4 separate regions of the Homo sapiens genome follow, and all the other regions are linked to region 2. The links come from fine-mapping of genetic effects on gene expression. A gene starts in region 2. Each other region holds a variant in brackets. All regions are shown on one strand. Distances are from middle to middle. Region 1 overlaps PLBD2 (phospholipase B domain containing 2). Region 2 holds the start of PLBD2 (phospholipase B domain containing 2). Region 3 has its middle 3.3 kb from the start of CFAP73. Region 4 holds the start of SDS (serine dehydratase).

Region 1 (5,147 bases), 22 kb after region 2:
GGGTCTCACTGTGTTGCCCAGGCTGGTCACAAACTTCTAGCCTCAGGTGATCCTCCTGCCTCAGCCTCCCAAAGCACTGGGATTTCAGGTGTGAGCCTCTGCGCTGGGTCCCACTGTGCCTTTTTCCTTTCCTTTTTTTTTTTTTTTTCTTTGAGACAGAGTCTCACTCTGTTGCCCAGGCTGGAGTGCAGTGGCACAATCTCGGCTCACTTCAACCTCCGCCTCCCAGGTTCAAGCAATTCTCCCACTTCAGCCTCCTGAGTAGCTGGGACTACGGGCATGCACCCCCAACCTGGCTAATTTTGTATTTTTAGTAGAGATGGGGTTTCACCATGTTGGTAAGGCTGGTCTCAAACTCCTGGCCTCCTGACCTTGGCCTTCCAAAGTGCTGGGATTACAGGCGTGAGCCACTGTGCCCGGCCTACTGGTCCCTTTGTTTTAAAGTGCAAAGACTTAATGTGGAAGAGATAATTCAGGCCAGACGCGGTGGCTCATGCCTATAATTCTAGCACTTTGGGAGGCCGAGGCTGGTGGATCACTTGAGGTCAGAGTTCGAGACCAGCCTGGCCAATGTGGTAAAACCATGTCTCTACTAAAAATACAAAAATTAGCTAGACATGGTGGTAAATGCCTGTAATTGCAGTTACTCGGGAGGCTGAGACAAGAGAATCACTTGAACCTGGGAGGCAGAGGTTGCAGTGAGCCGAGATCCCCCCACTGCACTCTAGCCTGGGCAACAGAGCAAGACTCTGTCTCAAAAAAAAAAAAAAAAAAAAAAAGACAAAGGATAATTCAGAGAGCTACACCCAGAACTCTGGAGCACTGTAGGGAAGAGGTCTGGGTAGAATCCCTGCTCAGCCATTTAACTGTTTGGCCTCTGCTAAGTTACTTAGCCTTTCTGAGTCTCAGATTGCCTTATCTGCAAAGTGCAGATGATAATTCTCTGCCCCCATGCAGGGCGGGTATAAGGAGTCAATTTACAAGATCACAGGGGTAATGAGCCTCCAGCATAAGCGTGAGGTCACAGTAGCCCTGCTGCAGACAGTGCATAAAACCAGACTAGCACTTGTCAAGGGATGGGTTTCAGGTAGAAGGAGTTCTAGGGCAGGGGTGAGGGTACCTGCCGGGGGTGGGCCTGTAATCCCAGCTACTCGGGAGGCTGAGGCAGGAGAAGCGCTTACAACTGGGAGGTGGAGGTTGCAGTGAGCTGAGATCGCCCCATTGCACTCCAGCCTGGGCAAAAAGAGCGAAACTCTGTCTCAAAAAAAAAAAATGTCCAGTGAACAAAATATTTATCTGTTTGTCTATCTATCTGAGTATATATATTTAACACATACACATATACCCACGCACACACAGAGTTGTCCCTTGGTGTTGGGGAGGGAGTTGACTCCAGGAGCCCCTGTGGAAGCTCAGGTCTCTTCTATAATACGGCTGACTGTTTACCTATAACATATACATATCCTCCCATATCCTATAATCATCTCTAGATTACTTGTAAGACCTAATACAATGCTACATTAATAGTTGTTATACTGTATTTTTAAAATTTGTTTTATCTTTTAGTGTTATTTCTTTTATTTATTTATTTATTTATTTTTTTTAGATGGAGTCTCACTCTGTCGCCCAGGCTGGAGTGCAGTGGCGCGATCTCGGCTCGCTGCAAGCTCTGCCTCCCGGGTTCACGCCATTCTCCTGACCCAGCCTCCCAAGTAGCTGGGACTATAGGCGCACGCCACCACGCCTGGCTCATTTTTTGTATTTTTAGTAGAGACGGGTTTCACCGTGTTAGCCAGGATGGTCTTGGTCTCCTGACCTCGTGATCCGCCTGCCTTGGCCTCCCAAAGTGCAGGGATTACAGGTGTGAGCCACTGCACCCAGCTGTGTTGTTTCTTTTTAATCATGTTTTTTTCCTAGTATTTTTGGTCCCCAGTCGATTGAATCCAAGGATGTGGAACCCACGGACATGGAGGGCCAACTATATAAGTTTTGCTGCTAGCTTTTATTTTTACTTGCACGTATATGCACTTTTATATGCCCAATGACCTCATTTGCTAAATGACAAAAAGGACACAGTGGGGGCTTCCTCGGAGGCCTGCCTGTGCCCCTGTGCCTGTGTCTTGTTAGGTAGGGTGCAGGGGCCTCCACCTGTGCCTGTCTGACCAGCATCCCTGGCTCGCTCTGCCTGCACAGGGGACTACCCGCTGGTTCCCGGCAACAAGCTGGTCTTCTCCTCCTACCCCGGCACCATCTTCTCCTGCGACGACTTCTACATCCTGGGCAGTGGGCTGGTGAGTCCCTTTCTCATGTCTCCTCTGTTCCTGGGGTGTTTGTCACACGGCGGCTCTGAGCTGGCAGGATTGATTCCTGCGGCAAGTGGGGACCAGGCTGCAGCCCAGTGCTGGGTGCCATGTAGGAGCCAGGGGTGCAGTGGAGGATGAGGTGGACGCTGCCCCACCTGCCATTCAGAGCCCAGACTCGCCCTTCCCCTGCTCTGGGGACTTGGACCA[C/T]CACAAGGGCGTGTTTAAACATAGACCCCCAGGCCCCGCACAGGGCCTCCAAAACCTGCAGATGGCCTGGGACTCTGCATGTAACCCTGGTTGTCAGGAAAGGCTGGACTTGGGGATGTTTGGGACTATCCCTGACCTCAGTGACCTCACTTGTTTTTATGTATTCAGGATAACTGTGCCCCCGCCCCCCCCACATCCCCACCGCTTCCCTCTCCTCCTGCCTCCCTCTTGCTTTCCTCAGAGCCCCTCTGACCTGACCAGGTTTGCTGAATAGAGGCTGTTTACAGTGTGTTGTTTTCATCTTTTTTCCTGGCTGCGGTCCAGACTTGTTTAGAAATCTGTCCCTGGCACCCCTCGCTGAGAAAGTGAACCCTTTGATCTCCAGGGCAACGAGACAGAGGAGAAAAAACATCACTCTAAAAAACACCCTTAGCGCAGAGAACGCCAGCTCCCTGCGGGGACGGGAGGGGTGGGGACTCTTCTTCTTGTCTGATCCTTGCTTTTTTCTGAGTGTGGAACGAGGCAAGAGAGGGCCAGGCGGTGGGTGAGGGAACCCCCATGCTGTGGCCCAGGTGGGGAAGGGGACTGAGGCAGCTGGGGAGGGACACGTGAAATGGTTCCACCTGGTTACCAGGAAAGGGTCTGGGCAGGAAACTTCCCTTCCATCAGGGTCCCTAACTGTTTTTGTGCCATAAACACCTTGGGCAGTCCAGGAGGCTGTTGGCCCTCTTCTCAGAATAGTGTTTTAACTTTTATTATTTATTTATTTTTTTTCATAGAGATAGGGTCTCTCTCTGTCACTCAGGTTGGAATGCAGTGGTGTGATCGTGGCTCACTGCAACCTCCCACCTCCTGGGTTCAGGCGATCCTCCTGCCTCAGCCTCCTGAGTAGCTGGGACTACAGGCACATGCCACCATGCTCAGCTAATTTTTAAATTTCTTGTAGAAATGAGGTCTCACTATATTTCCCAGGCCAGTCTCGAACTCCTGGGTTGAAGGGATCCTCCTACCTCAGCTTCCGAAAGTGCTGGGATTATAGGTGTGAGCCACTGTGCCTGGCAAATTAGTGTTTTTAGACACATAAACCAAAATGTATAGGATTATGGAGGAAACCAGTTATAGTGAAATATGGTTATCAAAATATAAGTAAACTTTTAGTATATATGTGCTGCTTTATTAACACACTGAATAATAAGATCCAGAAGCAGGTGTGATAAATACCATAAGTTAGAAGAAGCAAGGTGCATGAATGATACTTTAAGGTATGTACAGCCTTGTAATCTGATGGAAAAACATCTGTGATTTCTGACAGTGACCGTCCCAGTGACTACTAATACCACTGTGGTGTGTCACGTTAACAGTGGAAAGAAATACCAAATTTCAGGATTTTTTTTTTTCAGAGATAGGATCTCACACTGTCATGCAGGCCTGAGTGCAGTGGCATGATCACAGCTCACTGCAGCCTCTATCACCTCAGCCTCAAGCGATCCTCCCATCTCAGCCTCCCAAGTAACTGGAACTATAGGCGCCTGCCACCATGCCTGGCTAATTTTTTTATTTTTTGTAGAGACAGGTTTTGCCATGTTACCCAGGCTGGTCTTGACCTCCTGGGCTCAAGCAATCTGACCCCCTTGGCCTCCCAAAGTGCTGAGCCACTGTGTCCAGCCTTTTTTTTCCTCTTTAAAGAGAAAAAAGAAAAAATCACATTTATGGATACAGCTATCTTTTAGCTGTTCTCAGCTTTTTGGTGGGGGTGGTGGTGGTGGTGGTTTTTTGTGTGTGTGTGTGTGTGTGTGTGTGTGTGTGTTTTTTTTTTTTTTTTTTTTTTTAGATAGGCTCTCTCTCTGTTGCCCAGGCTGGAGTGCAGTGGCACGATCTCAGCTCACTGCAACCTTCGCTTCCAGGGTTCAAGTGATTCTCATGCCTCAGCCTCCGAATAGCTGGGATTACATGAGTTTTGTTTGGTTTGGTTTTTAACTCACAAGAACTAAGCTTTACTTTTCAAATATGCTGAAGGCAGCCAAGGGTTCCAGCAGGAAATGGAGAAGGGAGAGGAGGCAATCGGAGGCAGCGGTGGGCATCCTGCATGCCCCAAGGCTGGAGGGAGACTGAGGGCCTCTCCTGTTGTAAGGCCTCCTAGTCCTCTGACTGCTGCATCTGCCAGGCTGACAGCCTCAGGCCGTGCAACTTTTCCTGCAGAACTGTGGGAAAGGGGTGGGAATGGGAGGTTGCCCAGCTTGGTGAGGGAGTGGGTTCATGGGAGCGGCTCTTTGGGCCTCTCAGGGGCTGTTCACCAGGGCAAAGCTAGATGCATGATCCCAAATCCTCCTGCGTGCTTGTCCAAGGAACTGGTGGGGAACACGTGCCTCAACTGGATATGAGTTTTTATTTTTATTTATTTCTTCTTTTGTTACCCAGGCTGAAGTGCAGTGGCATGATCTGGGCTCACTGCAACCTCTGTCTCCTGGGTTCAAGTCATTCTCCTGCCTCAGCCTCTCCAGTAGCTGGGATTACAGGTGTATGCCACCACACCTGGCTAATTTTTGTATTTTTAGTAGAGACAGGGTTTTACCATGTTGGCCAGGCTGGTCTGGAACTCCTGACCTCAGGTGATCCACCTACCTTGGCCTCCCAAAG
Region 2 (5,147 bases):
CTCCCTCCCTCCCTTCCTTCCTTCCTTTTCTCTCTCTTTCTCTCTCTCTCTCTCTCTTTCCTTTTTGACAACTTCTTGCTCTGTTGCCCAGGCTGTAGTGCAACTCACTGTAGCCTCGACTTCCTAGGCTCAAGCAATCCTCCCCCCTCGGCCTCCCAGTAGCTGGGACTGAGGCAGAAATTAAAATAATAATAATAATAAGTACTACATATATTCACTCCAAGAGAAGTAAGAGCTAAGGCCCAGAATGTGGCAAGGCAAGGGTTAAAAAAGAAGAAGAACAAGTTTTCCTCTGCTTAGCAGCTCACTTCAAGGACAGTTATAAGATAACGCTGTCCGAAAAGCCAAGGCCAGAGGACTGGGCTCCAGACCCCGCCCTCCACCCCACCGCCCGCCTCCAGAGCAAGGTTGAAGGAAAAAAAAGAGAGAAAGACAAATTATTTTATTGCTATTCCTTTCCTTGGTCTCTTAAGCATGACTATGTTTTACAAACCTCTCTATTTAGCCAGTTCTTGTTTTACTTTTGATGCAGCTACAAGGCCACCAGCTATGCAAGGCCACAAGTTATGCACTATATGATTAACTACTTTTGTTTTACCTTTCTAAGCTTGCTTATAAAAACCCCACAATATCTTTGTTCTAGGCTCAGCTTTTTGGATGTGAATCCACTGAGCCAGTGCGTACGTTGAAATAAACATCCTCCTGTTCTCTCATATTGGTCTCTCCGTTCCTCAGTTTCCCACAACAGGACTACAGGTGTGCACCACCAAGCTCAGCTAATTTTTATATTTTATAGAGACAGAGTCTTGCCAGGTTTCCTAGGCTGGTCTCAAACTCCTGGGCTCAAGCATTCCTCCCACCTTGGCCACCCAAAGTGCTGTGATTACAGGCATGAACCACTCACCTGGCCTTCCCTCTCAAATTTTAAGAGTTCCTGATATATTATATGATATATGTTGAGATATATATACATATATATATGTAATGTATATATATGATATATGTTGCAAATAGTTTCTCCTGGTCTGTCAGATGTCTTTTGACTTTGCTTATTGAGTTTTTTGACATGAAAAAGTTAAAAAATTTATACAGTCAAATGCATTAATCTTTTATTGCATCTAGGTTTTTTTTTTTTTTTTTTTCTTTTGAGACAAGGTCTCATTCTGGTTGCTCAGGCTGGAGTGCAGTGGTGCAATCTCGACTCTCTGCAGCCTCGACCTTCCGGGCTCAGGTGATTTTCCTACCTCAGTCTCCCGAGTAGCTGGGACTATAGGCGCGCCTCACTGCGTCCGGCTACTTTTTTGTATTTTTAGTAGAGACGGGGGTTTCACCATGTTGCCCAGGCTGGTCTTGAACTCCTGAACTCGCCCGCCCTGGCCTCCTGGAGTGTTGGGATTACAGGCGTGAGCCACCGCGCCCGACGGCATCTAGGTTTTGAGTAGTAGTTAGACAGCTTTTTCCCACACACATGTAAAAAGGGTATTTGAGGGACAATGGGAAAAGTTGGAATAAAGACTGCATTAGATAACTGTATTAAATAAATGGCAAATACCATTAAATAAATCTGGCCGGGCGCGGTGGCTCACCCCTGTAATCCCAGCACTTTGGGAGGCTGAGGCAGGCGGATCACCTGAGGTCAGGAGTTCAAGACCAGCCTGGCCAACATGGCGAAACCCCGTCTGTACTGAAATTACATAAATCAGCTGGGCGTGGTGGTGCGCGCCTGTAATCCCACCTACTCAGGAGGATGAGGCAGGAGAATCGCTTGAACCCGGGAGGCGGAGGTGGCAATGAGCCGAGATCGCGTCACTGCACTCCAGTCTGGGCGACATATGGAGGTTTTGTCTTGTCTCAAAAAAAAAAAAAAAAAAAAACTTGGGGAAGTGTGCTAAACCGGGTTTGCGTAGGTGGAAGGGGCGGCCGGGCTCTTTAAGGTGGGTCCCGCCCCGTAGGCCTCCCCTCGCGCCAGCCCCTCCCATCCCGGAAAGGCTCAGCCCAAGCCCGGCCCCGCCCGCCCTCGGCCCCGCCCATGGCAGAGCGCAGTCACGTGACCCGGGCTGCGGGGCGCAGCATTGTGCGGTCATGGTGGGCCAGATGTACTGCTACCCCGGCAGCCACCTGGCCCGGGCGCTGACGCGGGCGCTGGCGCTGGCCCTGGTGCTGGCCCTGCTGGTCGGGCCGTTCCTGAGCGGCCTGGCGGGGGCGATCCCAGCGCCGGGGGGCCGCTGGGCGCGCGATGGGCAGGTCCCTCCAGCCTCCCGCAGCCGCTCGGTGCTCCTGGACGTCTCGGCGGGCCAGCTGCTTATGGTGGACGGACGCCACCCTGACGCCGTGGCCTGGGCCAACCTCACCAACGCCATCCGCGAGACTGGGTAAGGGTTGGCTTATCCCCACGCGGGGCCATCGGGGGAGGGGGATGCGTGGGCGCCGGACCTCGCCTGTTCCCGGGACCGGCCTCTTGCCGGGTGGGAACGCCCGTTTCTCTGGGGGTCAGCTACTCCCGAGGCTGCAGCACCGCCCTGCGGGCCAAGTACCCTGTTTGGGAGCTGGCTACTGCGGCATCCCTCACCTCATGGGGCCAGTCCCTTGCCTTCAGCCAGTGGTGACAGTACTTCTGTCCCCAAGAAGCCAGTTCCCTACCACCGAGGCCGCAGTGCCTGCATCTGGATCAGGTCCATGGCTGGTGGGTAAATTCTATCCTCACGGGGACCTGCTCCCTTCCCTAGACTTTGCCTCCTCACCCCATGGAGGCCAGCCCCCTGTCCCCAGGCCTGAGGGGTGATGAGAACTCAGCAGGAGACTAATTCTTACCTGCTTGGCTGTGGCTTGCTCGTGGGTGCCAGCACCCTGCCTCCCTTCCAGTGCCAGGTCAGCAGGACTGAACCTGGGTTCCAGGCTAGTCCAAAAGCAGAGGGTCCCTAAAGTCACATAGACCCATTTAGTATCCTGCTAGGGCTCTGCTCCTCCCTTGTCTTCTGTGTCCTGGTCCAAGGGGAAGTCCTTGGCTGGATGCCGTGTTTGGCAGCCATGCTCACCATCTTTATTGCTGGAACCCAGGCTGTCATTCTGATGTGTGAGTCTCACCTAACTCCTCCGCCTGTCTGGGCTCCCGTTTCCCCATCTGTGGCCCAGATTTTGAGGATGTGCTCTAGTTGGGTGGTCATGTGCTGCAAGTTCTGTACAAGGGCTTGTGCCCATTCATTTATTCATTACCCTGATGGTTGGCCTTAGGGACACAGCTGAGCAGCTGTCTCTACTCAGTGGGAAACACAGACAGCGATAGAAGAGAAATCAGAGTCAGTGGGAGTGGGAAGGATCAGCTTCAAAGCCTTGTCAGCAGGGCCCAGACGCTGGATCAGGCTGTGCTGGGGGATCCTAGGGAACCCGGGGTGCATCCGTCATATCCTAGTGTCCAGATGATGCTAGGGAACCCTAGCACTAGGATGTGCCCAGGATGTGGTCTGTGCTCAGACCACACTGCCCCCTGCAGCAGAAAGGGCCTCCTCCCACTTTAGCCCCTATCCATTTTACTGGCATCCATTGGCTTCTGCAGGTGTTAGGGAGACACAGGATGCCGAGGACACCCCCATTCTGGTGGCACTTGGGGGGTACATCAAGTAGACGTGAGATTTGGGGGAGATATTTGCACAGACACAGGGGCACTGGTTGGGGTAAATCTGGGAAGGCTCCCAGAGAGAGGAGGCCACAGAGTGAGCTGGCATCTGTGGAGGGAACTGAAGCTTTGTGGCTGGCCTCGGGGGCTGCCGGGACTCTTGGATCTGGTGACCCGTTCTTTGCTGACTCACTCATGTTTTTGGCCCTGCATAGCAGAATCAAGAGGACATGACAGAACTGTTCAGGCGAGGAGGGGCAGGAGCGAGGCCCAGCATGGGGAGGGGGCTTTGGCCTCTGGAGGCCCCTCCTGGGCTGTGTTGCTCTTGACTATGGTAAACATGGAAGTGGAGAGAAGGCTTCCTTGATTGTGCTGGATGGAAAGTTCTTCCAGGCTCAGCCCCTCTGCTGTGTGACCTTGGGCAAATCCCTTCACCTCTCTGAGCATGTTCCCTCATATCAAGGTAGGACCAAAAGGGTCATGGAAATTCACTGGGGTCACAGAAAGCACTGTTTATTTATTTTTATTTGTATTTTATTTTTTGAGACACAGTTTCACTCCGTTGCCCAGCTGGAGTGCAGGGGCACGATATTGGCTCACTGCAACCTCCCCACCCTGGGTTCAAGCGATTCTCGTGTCTCAGCCTCCCAAGTAGCTGGAATTACAGGTGTGTGCCACCATGCCCGGCTAATTTTTGTATTATTAGTAGAGATGGGGTTTCACCATGTTGGCCAGGCTGGTCTCAAACTCCTGACTTCAGGTGATCTGCCCATCTTGGACTTTCTGGCTTGTTTTCGGCACCCTCTCTCATCCCCTCCTCTTACGCTCACATGCCCCTTTCCCTTTGAGTTTGCCAGCCCTTGAGGCTCTGATGCAGGGAAAACCATAAAGCGAGCCCCATTTTATAGGCAGGAAACTGAGGTCCTCAGAGACAGCTGCTTGAGGACTCAGGGTCAGATGAAAGAAAGCCATAGGGGGTGTCCTGGCTCCTGATCAGCAGAATCTCTGATCTGTGGGGGACTCTGTGTCTTATTTCGGAGGGTGGGGGCAGGGATTTGATGCCTCTGTTCACTCAGAATTAGGATCCTCCTCCTTCCTGGTGAAATCCCCAGATTTTGCCACTGGGGATCCTGGGATTATCAGGATAAATTCTCCCTACACCATAATCCTTCGTCTTTTTTATTTTTTAAAAAAGGTTTTTTTTTTTTTGTTTTTTTTTTTTTTTTGAGACAGGGTCTCCCTGTGTTATCCAGGCTCGAGTGCAGTGGTATGATCATGGCTCACTGCAGCCTTGAACTCCCAGGCTCAAGAAATCCTCCGACCTCGGCCTCCCAAGTAGCTGGGACTATAGATACGCACCCCCATGCCTGGCTAATTTTTAAATTCTTTTTTTTTGTAGAAACAGGGGTCTTGTCATGTTGCCCAGGCTGGTCTTGAACTCCTGGGCTCAAGTGATCCTCTCACCTTAGCATCCCCAAATGTTGGGATTACAGATGTGAGCCACTGTGCTCGGTACCTTCTTTCAGTTGTGCCA
Region 3 (5,147 bases), 210 kb before region 2:
GTGGCTCACGCCTGTAATCTCAACACTTTGAGAGGCTGAGGCGGGAGAATCACTTGAGCCCAGGAGTTTGAGACCAGCCTAAGCAACATAGCAAGACCTCATCTCTACAAGAAATTTTAATAATTACGGCCGCACACGGTGGCTCATGCCTGTAATCCCAGCACTTTTGGAGGCCAAGGCAGGCGGATCACCTGAGGTCAGGAGTTTGAGAGCAGTCTGGCCAACATGGTGAAACCCCATCTCTAATGCCTGTAATCCCAACACTCTGGGGGACCGAGGTAGGAGGAGGCCGAGGTAGGAGGCTCTCCTGAGGCCAGGAGATCAGGACCAGCCTGGGCAATGTAGTAAGACCCCATCTCTACAAAAAAATTTTTTAAACTTAGCCTAGCACGGTGGTGCACACCTGTAGTCACAGCTACTGAGAAGGCTGAGGTGGGAGGATTGCTTAAGCCCTTTAGCCTGGGCGACAGAGTGAGACTCTGGCTCTAAAATAAATAAATAAATAAATAAATAAAACTCTACAGTTAAAAACAATCCAGTTAAGACATAGGCAAGAGGCGTTTCACTGAACTGAACATATATTTTACTGAGGAGGATATACAGATGGCAAACAAGCACATGAAAAGATGTTCAACTTCATTAGCCTTTAAAGAAATGCAAAATAAAAACACAATGTGCTATCACTACATGCCTATCAGAATGGCTGAAATAAAAAAATAGTGATCACAGCAAAGATACAGAGACACTGGATCATTCATTTTTTGCTGGTGGAAATGTAAAATGTGCAGCCCCTATGCAAAAGAATATGAGAGGTTTTTTTAAATTTTTTAATTTAATTTTTTTTTTTTTGAGATGGAGTCTCACTCTGTCCCCCAGGCTGGAGTGCAGTGGTGCGATCTCAGCTCACTGCAACTTCTGCCTCCTGGATTCAAGCAATTCTTCTGCCTCAGTCTCCCAAGTAGAGTAGCTGGGATTGCAGGTGTGCACCACCATACCAGGTTAATTTTTGTATTTTTAGTAGAGATGGAGTTTCACCATGTTGGCCAGGCTGGCCTCGAACTCCTCCTGACCTTAGGTGATCTGTCCGCCTCAGCCTCCCAAAGTGCTGGGAGAAGTGCTCAGCTCACTCTGTTGCAGCCTGGGTGGCTGGGAGAACAGCGTGAGCCACCATGACCGGCTGGCAGCTTCTTTAAAAACGAAATGTCACTTACCATACAGCCCAACAATTTCACTCTTGGGCATTTATCCCAAAGAAATAAAGGCATAGGCTCACACAAAAAGTAGCACATGAATCTTCATGGCATATATATATATTCTTTATATATATAATTTATTTATATGTATATATATTTTATATATGTATGTATATATTTTGGAGACATGGTCTCACTCTGTCGCCCAGGCTGCAGTGCAGTGATGTGATCACAGCTCACTGCAGCCTTGACCTCACAGGCTCCTGCCTCAGTCTCCCAAGTAGCTAGGACCACAGGCCTGTGCCACCAAACCCAGCTGATTTTTCTTTTCTTTTTTTTTTTTGTAGAGACAGGGTCTCTCTATGTTATCCAGACTGACTTTGAACTCCTGGGTTCAAGAGATCCTCCTGCTTCAGCCTACCAAAGTGCCAAGATTACAGGCATGAGCCACTGCACCTGACCCAGCTTTACTCTTAATAGCTTTATTCTTAAAAACTGGAAATGACCCAAATGTCCTTCAGCCTGAATGGTTAAACAAACTGTGGTACACCCATACCATGGCATGCTGCTCAGCAATCCAAAGGAACAAACTATCGATACATACAACAACCAGGATGGATCTCAAGAGAATTACGCGTAGTGAAAAAAGCCAATCTCAGAAGGTTACATACTGAAAGATTCCCTTTCTCTCCCCTCCCCTCCCTTCCCCCACCCCTGCTCCCCCCTCCCCCTCCTTCCTTTTGAGACAGGGTCTTGCTCTGTCACACAGGCTAGAGTGCACTGGCGGGATCATGGCTCACTGCAGACTCTGTCTCCCAGGATCAAGTGATCCTCCCACTTCAACCTACCGAGTAGCTGAGACTACAGGCATGCGCCACCACGCCTGGATAACTTTTGTATTTTTTTGTAGAGACAGGATTGCATCATGTTGCCCAGGCTAGTGTCAAACTCCTGGAGTCAAACGATCCTCCTGCCTCGGCCTCTCAAAGTGTTGGAATTACAGGCGTGGCCACCGTGG[C/A]TGGCCAATTCCATTTCTCTAACATCCTTGACATGTCAAAATTATACAGATGAAGAACAGAGGAATGGTTGTCAGGGCTTAGGGAGGGGAGAAGCAGGAGACCAGTATGCCTCTAAGTGAACCTTGTGATGAACTGTTCTGTATTTTGACTATAGTGGTTGTCACATAAATATACCTGAGGCAAGGCTGCATAGAACTAAATATACACACACACACACATACCCATGAATGCATGTTAGAATGGTGAAATCTGAGTGAGTTCAGTGGGTTGTATCAATGCCAACTTTCTGATTGTGATATTGTACTATAGTTACGCAAGATGTTACCACTGGAGAAAACTGGGTGGAAGGGATATGGGATCTCTCTGTATTGGTCCTTAAACTGCATGTAAATCTACAGTTATCTCAAAAATTAAAATGTAATCTAGGCCGGGTGTGGTGGCTAACGCCTATAATCTCAGCAGTTTGGGAGGCAGAGGCAGGCGGATAGCTTGAGCACACAAGTTCAAGACCAGCCTGGACAACATGGTGAAACCCCACCTACAAAAAATACAAAAATTAGCTGGGTGTGGTGGCACCTGACTGAGGTCCCAGTTTCTTGGGAGGCTGAGGTGGGAGGATGGCTTGAGTCTGGGAGGTAGAGGTTGCAGTGAGCCAAGATCATGCCACTGCATTCCAGCCTTGTGGTAGAGCCAGACCTTGTCTCAAAAAAAAAAAAAAAAAATTAAACCATAATCTATACTACAATACAACTATTAAAATGACCTTTTTTTTTTTTTGAGACAGAGTCTCACTCTTATCACCCAGGCTGGAGTGCAGTGGTGCAATCTCAGCTCACTGCAACCTCTGCCTCCCAGGTTCAAGCGATTCTCCTGCCTCAGCCTCCTGAGTAGCTGGGATTACAGGCACATGCCCCCATGCCCAGCTGATTTTTGTATTTTTAGTAGAAACTGGGTTTCACCATGTTGCTCAGGCTGGTCTTGGTGACCTCAGGTGATCCACCTGCTTCAGCCTCCCAAAGTGCTGGGAATACAGGCATGAGCCACCACACCCGGCCATAAAATGACTTTTTAAAAAACTGACAATACCAACTGCTGGTGAGGATATGGAGCAACTAGAACTCTCCTAATGGAGCAACTAGAACTCTTGTACATTGCTAGTGTGAATATAAAAATAGTACAGCCACCTTGAATAACAGCTTGCAGTTTTTTATACAGTTAAACATACACTTACCATACGACACAGCAATACCACTCTGACATATTTACACAAGTGAAATGAAAACTTATGTTTGCACAAAAACCTGCACATGAATACAGCCTGTATTTGCAAGTGCCCAGAACTGGAAGCAACTCACCTGTCTTTCATCTGGGGAATGAATCAACAAACTATAGTATTCATAATATAATGTACCCGGCAATGAAAAAGAATGAGCTACTGATACACATATCAATATGAATGAATCTCAAATGAATATTACTAAGTGAAAGAAGACAGACTCAAAGGGCTACAAAGTGTATACCGTGATTTCATGTATGATATCCTGCAAAAGGTAAAACTCGAAGGACAAAGAATATGTAGAAGTTGCCAGAGGCTGGTGTGGAGGGAAGGGTTGATTATAAAGGGGCACAAGGGCTTTTTGGGGTGATGGAAATGTTTTGTATGTTGATTGTGGTGGTGATTACATGACTTTATGCATTTGCCAAAATCCATAGAATGGTATATGGAAAAAGTGACTTTTACTTTTTGTAAAAGATACCTTTATCTTTTAAAAAATTAAGAAAAAAATGAAGCCAGGCAAGGTGGCTCACGCCTGTAATCCCAGGACTTTGGGAGGCTGAGGCGGGCAGATCGCCTGAAGTCAGGAGTTCATGACCAGCCTGGCCAACATGGCAAAAACCCATCTCTACTAAAAATACAAAAAACTAGCCAGATGCGGTGGCGCGCGCCTTCAATCTCAGCTACTCCAGAGGCTGAGGCAGGAGACTCGCTTGAACCCAGGAGGCAGAGGTTGCAGTGAGAGGAGATCGTGCCACTGCACTCCAGCCTAGGTCACAGAGCAAGACTCCATCTCAAAAAAAAAAGAATGAAAAAATGAGATCATATCTTATTGTAACTTCACATCAATTTGTGCAGAAAGACAGCATGTCCAATTTAATTTTTAAAAATGCTCAAAGGTAAAATGTACATTATTTTAGTTCTTTTTAATTTCTTAGATATTGATTGATTGATTGATTGAGACAGGGTCTTGCTCTGTTGCCCACGCTGGAGTGCAGTGGAGTGATCATAGCTCACTGCAACCTCAACCTCCTGGGCTCAAGTGATCCTCCTGCCTCAGCTTCCCGAGTAGCTGGAACTATAGACACATGCCACTATCCCCAGCTAATCTTATTATTTTTTGTAGAGATGGGGTCTCTCTGTGTTACACAGGCTGGGCTGGAACTCCTGGGCTCAAACAAGCCTCCCACCTTGGCCTCCCAGAGTGCTGAGATTACAGGCATCAGCCACCGCACCCGGCCCTAGTTCTGTTTTTTAAAACATGCTCTAACGAAATCCTTAGGAGTTTTTTAAGCAATGTAGGATTACAAGGAACTATAGGTTTTTGAAACAGCATTGCTCTACATTAAGAAAATACATTTCTTTGAATGGAAAATAAATTATTTAAAATGGAAAATAAAATGACCGGAAGCAGGGAGGACAAGATGCTAGTGTTTGTTGCTTTGAATTGAAGAACCCAAGGGTACTTTTTATATTACTCTTGGTACTTTTCCCTAGTACCATCCACCCCCCACAGGGCTGTCTTAGGGATTAATTTAGATACTATAGAGTGCTGAGCATAGCATCTAACCCACAGTAAAGCCCAAACTATTGGCCAGGTGTGGTGGCTCACGCCTGTAATCCCAGCACTTTGGGAGGCCAAGGCAGGTGGCTCACTTG
Region 4 (5,147 bases), 43 kb after region 2:
TGTCTGAGACTGCACCTCCCATCTCCAAAGAGACTGGCTCAGGAAAGGGTGGAGGAAAATAGGCGACTGATGGCTCTGGGATCAGTCCCAAGGAACCCTCCTGGAAGGGCACCCCTCAAACAGAGGAAGCCCTAATGGTGGACGCTCAGTCCTTGCGGGGAGTCAGTAGGCTTATCCTACAACGCCTTTAATTTCACACAGCACTGGCCCTGCCCTGTTGAGGAAGGAGGACCTGCCACCCCTGCCCAGATAATGCTGACCCGGTCCCGTACCCTCTTGCAGAAGTGCCCAATGCCCCGGATCTTGAAGGAGCCGGAGGGCTGGGCACTGTCCATCTTGAGGTAGACGCTGGTGCCGGCCATTTTGGACAGGGCCATGCTGTCACGGATGGGGGTCTTCACGTGCAGGGGTTCTCCAGACATCATTCCTGGGAGAAAGGAAGGAAACCCAGAGGGTTAGGAGAGCTAGCCCCGGTGCCAGCACTGCCAGAGTGATCCCTTCCTTCGCTTCCCAGCAAGCCAAGCAAGGCCTCAGACGAGAGAGCATCCTGGAGACCTGGGCTCTAATCGCAAGTGGGCCACCTACTCACCATGTGACATCAGACAGGTAATCACGCCTTGGCCTCAGCTCTATCAGGGATCACCCTCCACTCCTGACCTCTCACACATTTGCTGGGAGGCTGAAGAGAGAACACTCAAACCTTGGAGCTTTCAAAATGCATGAGGTGAGGCCGGGCACAGTGGCTTATGCATGTAATACCAGCACTTTGGGAGGCCAAGGCTGGTGGATCACAAGGTCAGAAGTTCGAGACCAGCCTGGCCAACATGGTGAAACCCCGTCTCTACTAAAAATACAAAAAATTAGCTGGGCATGGTGGCGCACGCCTGTAACCCCAGCTACTTAGGAGGCTGAGGCAGGAGAATCACTTGAACCCAGGAGGCGGAGGTTGCAGTGAGCGAGATCGCGCCATTGCACTCCTGCCTGGGTGACAGAGCAAGACTCTGTCTTGAGAAAAAAAAAAAAAAGAAGAAGAAAGAGAATTAGCCAGGCATGGTGGCAGGCACCTGTAATCTCAGCTACTCAGGAGGCTGAGGGAGGAGCATCACTTGAACCGAGGAGGTGGAGGTTGTAATGGGCCAAGATCGAGCCACTGCACTCCAGCCTGGGCAACAGAGTGAGACTGTGTCTCAAAAAAAAAAAAGAATAGTCTATCTATCTATGTGAAAAATTCAGGGACACCCACACACACAGATAATCCATCCACACACACATACTCCATCCACACACACACGATCCACTCCCACACACAATCCATCCACACACACGCACAATCCATCCACACACACATATAGTCCACATGTTTCTTTTATATATTTTTTTAATTTTTTTATTTGAATTTTTTTTTGTTTTGTTCCACATGTTTCCATGTGCACAGAGCATTTCAGGAAACATGCATGACAGGCTGGCCAGGGTGGGGCCTCTGAGGAGAGCTGGCCCTCGGGATCATAGCACCCACCTTTTGCACAGTTTGATGTTTTACCATGTGCCTCTATTACTTACTTAAATGCATACATTTAAAAAAAACCTGGGCTGGGCGCGGTGACTCACACCTGTAATCCCAGCACTTTGGGAGGCCGAAGCGGGCGGATCACGAGGTCAGGAGATCGAGACCATCCTGGCTAACATGGTGAAACCCCGTCTCTACTAAAAATACAAGCTACTTGGGAGGCTGAGGCAGGAGAATGGCGTGAACCCGGGAGGCGGAGCTTGTAGTGAGCCGAGATCGCGCCACTGCACTCCAGCCTCGTCTACAGATCGAGACTCTGTCTCAAACAAACAAACAAACAAACAAAAACAACCTGGCAGCTGGCTCTTCTGACATGCAGTTCCAAGTATCTTGGCTTAAATGGACGATCCCAGGACCCAGCAAAATGCCTGACTCATAGTAGATGTTCAATAAATATTTATTTAAAAAAAAACAAAATAACCTAACTTTTGGGAAGCCCAATATTCAGTTAGGAAAAGCTCTTTCATAATTATTAATTTTGTCATAATTATTATAGCAGTGACTAATCACAGCTTTTAAATTTTATTCATTCATTCATTCATTCATTCATTCATTCATTCCAGTAGAGATGGGGTTTTGCTATGTTGGCCAGGCTGGTCTCCAACTCCTGGCCTCAAGCGTTCTGCCCACCTCAGCCTCCCAAACTGCTGGGATTACAGGCATGAGCCACAGCACCTGGCTTGCTGTTGTTTTAAGTCACATTTTGGGGTAGTTTGGTACACAGCAACAGGAAGGGGAATATTAACATAATTTGCCCAAAGTCACGCTGTGAGTGAGGCAGGGAGGCAGGATTTGAACTCGGGCAGCTGGCTCCAGGGCTCAGGCTCTCTCTGCGACCCATGG[G/A]TGTGGCTCAGGCTCCTGCTTCTGGATGGGCTCTGGGGGATGAAGCAGCTGGGGTGGCCCGGGGTCTAGCCACAGCCACGTCCACCCACCCAGCCTTCCCATCTCCCCTGCCTTCTGCTGAGAGTCTCAGGGAGGATTTGATTCTCCTCAACTTGGGCCGGGCCAGAAGAGATCAGCTGACGATGGCCAAGGGGCTCTCTGGTTCCCCCTCCCTCCACCATCCCAGAAGGCCAGGCAAGGGTGGCTAGCCAGAGACCCATCTCCAATGCCACCTTGTCCAGCCCCCTGTCCTGGGCACTCCTAGCTTGGACATCCATCCCCCGCTCCCAGAATGAGCCAGACATCCCTTGGTCAGAGGGAGAATGAGGGGTGGGGATTCCAACTGCCCCGCCAGACTTAGCATCCCCTAAATAGGTCACCCCTTGTCTATCTGAATTAACTGACATTCGGGGCCTGGGAGGGGAACTTGAACAGACACCCTCTCTCCGCTGGATCTCTCGAATAAAAATCAGAGACTGGGGCAAACTTCAAAACAGGACATCCCCAAATCGGCATGAACTTTCAGCTCCTGGAGGTTAATCCCCAAACAATGGGATCCCGGTTTTTATTTAGTTATTTTTAGAGAACCTCCCTCTGTCACCCAGGCTGGAGTGCAGCGGCATGATCTCGGCTCACTGCAACCTCCGCCTTCTGGGTTCAAGCGATTTTCCTGCCTCAGCCTCCCAAGTAGCTGGGATCACAGACGTGCACCACCACGCCCGAATAATTTTTGCATTTTTAGTGGAGACAAGGTTTCACCATATTGGGCAGGCTGGTCTCGAACTCCTGACCTCAAGTCATCTGCCTGCCTTGGCCTCCCAAAGTGCTGGGATTACAGGCGTGAGCCACCACACCGACTGACTTGACATTAAAGGCCGGTGTAGGTCACCAAGGCCTGGCCTCAGGGACAATCGGGGTGGGAGTCAGAGGAGCCGGCCACGAAGACCCTTTTCAGGTGGGTTTGGGGCGCCTCTCTCGCCGTTTGTCCCAGGCGGTGCCATGGGATGCCTTCAGGTAAAAGGACAGGGCTCCCTCTGCCGCGGCTTTCCGTGAAGTGAGCATCCATTAACTGCATCCAGCCTGCCCCAAGGATCCCTGCCCCAAGGATCGCAAGACTTCAGAAGAGGTTGTGCCCGGGGAGGAGGAGGGAGGGAGCCCTGAAGCCGCTGTCTGCCCACTCCGGCAGTCGGAAGCCACCTTCCCTTTCACTTGGTTCACAGTAAGTGCTCAGTCGATATGAACTATTATGAAATCTGGGCTGGACACCTTAAGTGCAGGTCATCCTTTCACCGTCACAACCACCTGAGGAGGAAGGCGCTATGCTCATCCCCATTCTACAGATGTGGAAGCTGAGGCACAGAACTGGACACAAACTCAGTGTTTAGGCCCAAATGGCTGTTTTTTAAAAATTTGAGACAAGGTCTTGCTGTGTCACCCAGGCTGGAGTGCAGGGGCGCAATAATTGCTCACTGCAGACTCGACCTCTTGGGCTCCAGCGATCCTCCCAACTCAGCCTTCCCAGTAGCTGGGACTACAGGTGTGCACCACCACACTATACTAATTAAATTCTTTTTTTAGGTCAGGAGTTCGAGACCAGCCTGGCCAACATGGTGAAACCCCATCTCTACTAAAAATACAAAAATTAGCCGGGCGTGGTGGCACACGCCTGTAGTCCAAGCTACTCGGGAGGCTGAGGCAGGAGAATCGCTTGAACCCAGGAGGTGGAGGTTGCAGTGAGCCCAGATTGTGCCATTGCACTTCAGCCTGGGTGACAGAGTGAGACCTCTGTCTTAAAAAAAAAAAATTTTTTTTGTAGAGATTGGGGGGGGTCTCACTCTGTTGCCCAGCTCAGTCTTGAACTTGTGGCCTCAAGCAACCCTCCCACCTCAGCCTTCCAAAGTGTTGGGATTACAGGCATCAGCCACCATGCCCAGCCTTGACAGACTCTTTCTATGTCTCCCTCTTCCCCTGGGAAACCACAGGCTAGCCCGGGACACTCCAGTCCTGAGGTGGGACTGAGGATGGGGCCACTTACCCGGCAAAGGTGATGGGTCTGAGCAGGAGTCAGAGCCAAGCCAGCGAGGGAGGGATCAACTGAGTAGATAGCCCACGAAGAGAGGGGGCTGAGGACGGGTGGACAGTCTTCTGAATGGTCCCAGGGGCTACTTGGTCCTGGGCTTTATTCCTCTGGCACCTCTGGGCAGCCAATGGGGCCCTGGGGCTGGCTACACCCCCCCCTCCCTCCTGCCAGGACCCACCCCCCTGGCTTGAGGCCACTGAGGCTGTCAGAAGGGAGGTGGAATCTGGCCAAGCTTTCTTCTTTGGCAGCTTCCTCCTGCCTTTCCCACAACCCACTCCTCCTCCCTCTTTCCACTTCCCCTTTCTGTCCTCAGTTTCGTGAAAGGAAAATAAAAAATTGGGACCCCCAACTCACTATGCCAAAAGAAAAAGAATTAAGCTAAAAGCTGAGTCATGTAAGAAACTGCCTTTCCTTTAGTTCCTAAGCAGATAGCTTCAGATGAAAGGTTAAATATTGGCTCCGCATTTTGGGAGGCCGAGGCGGGTGGATCACCTGAGGTCAGGAATTCGAAACCAGCCTGGCCAACATGGTGAAATCCCGTCTCTACTAAAAATACAAAAATCAGCCGGGTGTGGTGGCACGTGCCTGTAATCCTAGCTACTCAGGAGGCTGAGGCAC

The links. PIP is the estimated chance that this variant, and not a neighbour inherited with it, causes the effect. A credible set is the group of variants that fine-mapping cannot tell apart.
Region 1: its variant is the best candidate, but not a certain one, in a credible set for the expression of PLBD2 in blood mononuclear cells (TOPMed, PIP 0.85).
Region 3: its variant is the best candidate, but not a certain one, in a credible set for the expression of PLBD2 in whole blood (INTERVAL, PIP 0.75).
Region 4: its variant is the best candidate, but not a certain one, in a credible set for the expression of PLBD2 in whole blood (TOPMed, PIP 0.60).

What each region holds. Positions count from the first base shown.
Region 1 is chr12:113,378,552-113,383,698 of GRCh38, forward strand. PLBD2 (phospholipase B domain containing 2) reads left to right here. Exons shown (of 12, transcript NM_173542.4): 6 at 2,194-2,291. Among named protein-coding and RNA genes, the nearest start is that of PLBD2, 23 kb to the left of the region's middle. RefSeq lists an enhancer at 1,793-2,318. The variant C/T (reference allele first, on the strand shown) is at 2,511.
Region 2 is chr12:113,356,519-113,361,665 of GRCh38, forward strand. It overlaps PLBD2 (phospholipase B domain containing 2), which reads left to right and starts at 2,069. Exons shown (of 12, transcript NM_173542.4): 1 at 2,069-2,372. The coding sequence starts at 2,083. It overlaps LOC105369989 (a long non-coding RNA gene), which reads right to left and starts at 2,992. Exons shown (of 3, transcript XR_945346.3): 1 at 2,812-2,992. RefSeq lists silencers at 1,883-2,382, 2,433-2,492 and an enhancer at 2,828-3,327.
Region 3 is chr12:113,143,847-113,148,993 of GRCh38, forward strand. No RefSeq gene overlaps it. Among named protein-coding and RNA genes, the nearest start is that of CFAP73, 3.3 kb to the right of the region's middle. The variant C/A (reference allele first, on the strand shown) is at 2,212.
Region 4 is chr12:113,399,284-113,404,430 of GRCh38, forward strand. It overlaps SDS (serine dehydratase), which reads right to left and starts at 4,604. Exons shown (of 8, transcript NM_006843.3): 1 at 4,485-4,604; 2 at 273-427. The coding sequence starts at 425. RefSeq lists enhancers at 2,041-2,542, 2,543-3,042. The variant G/A (reference allele first, on the strand shown) is at 2,411.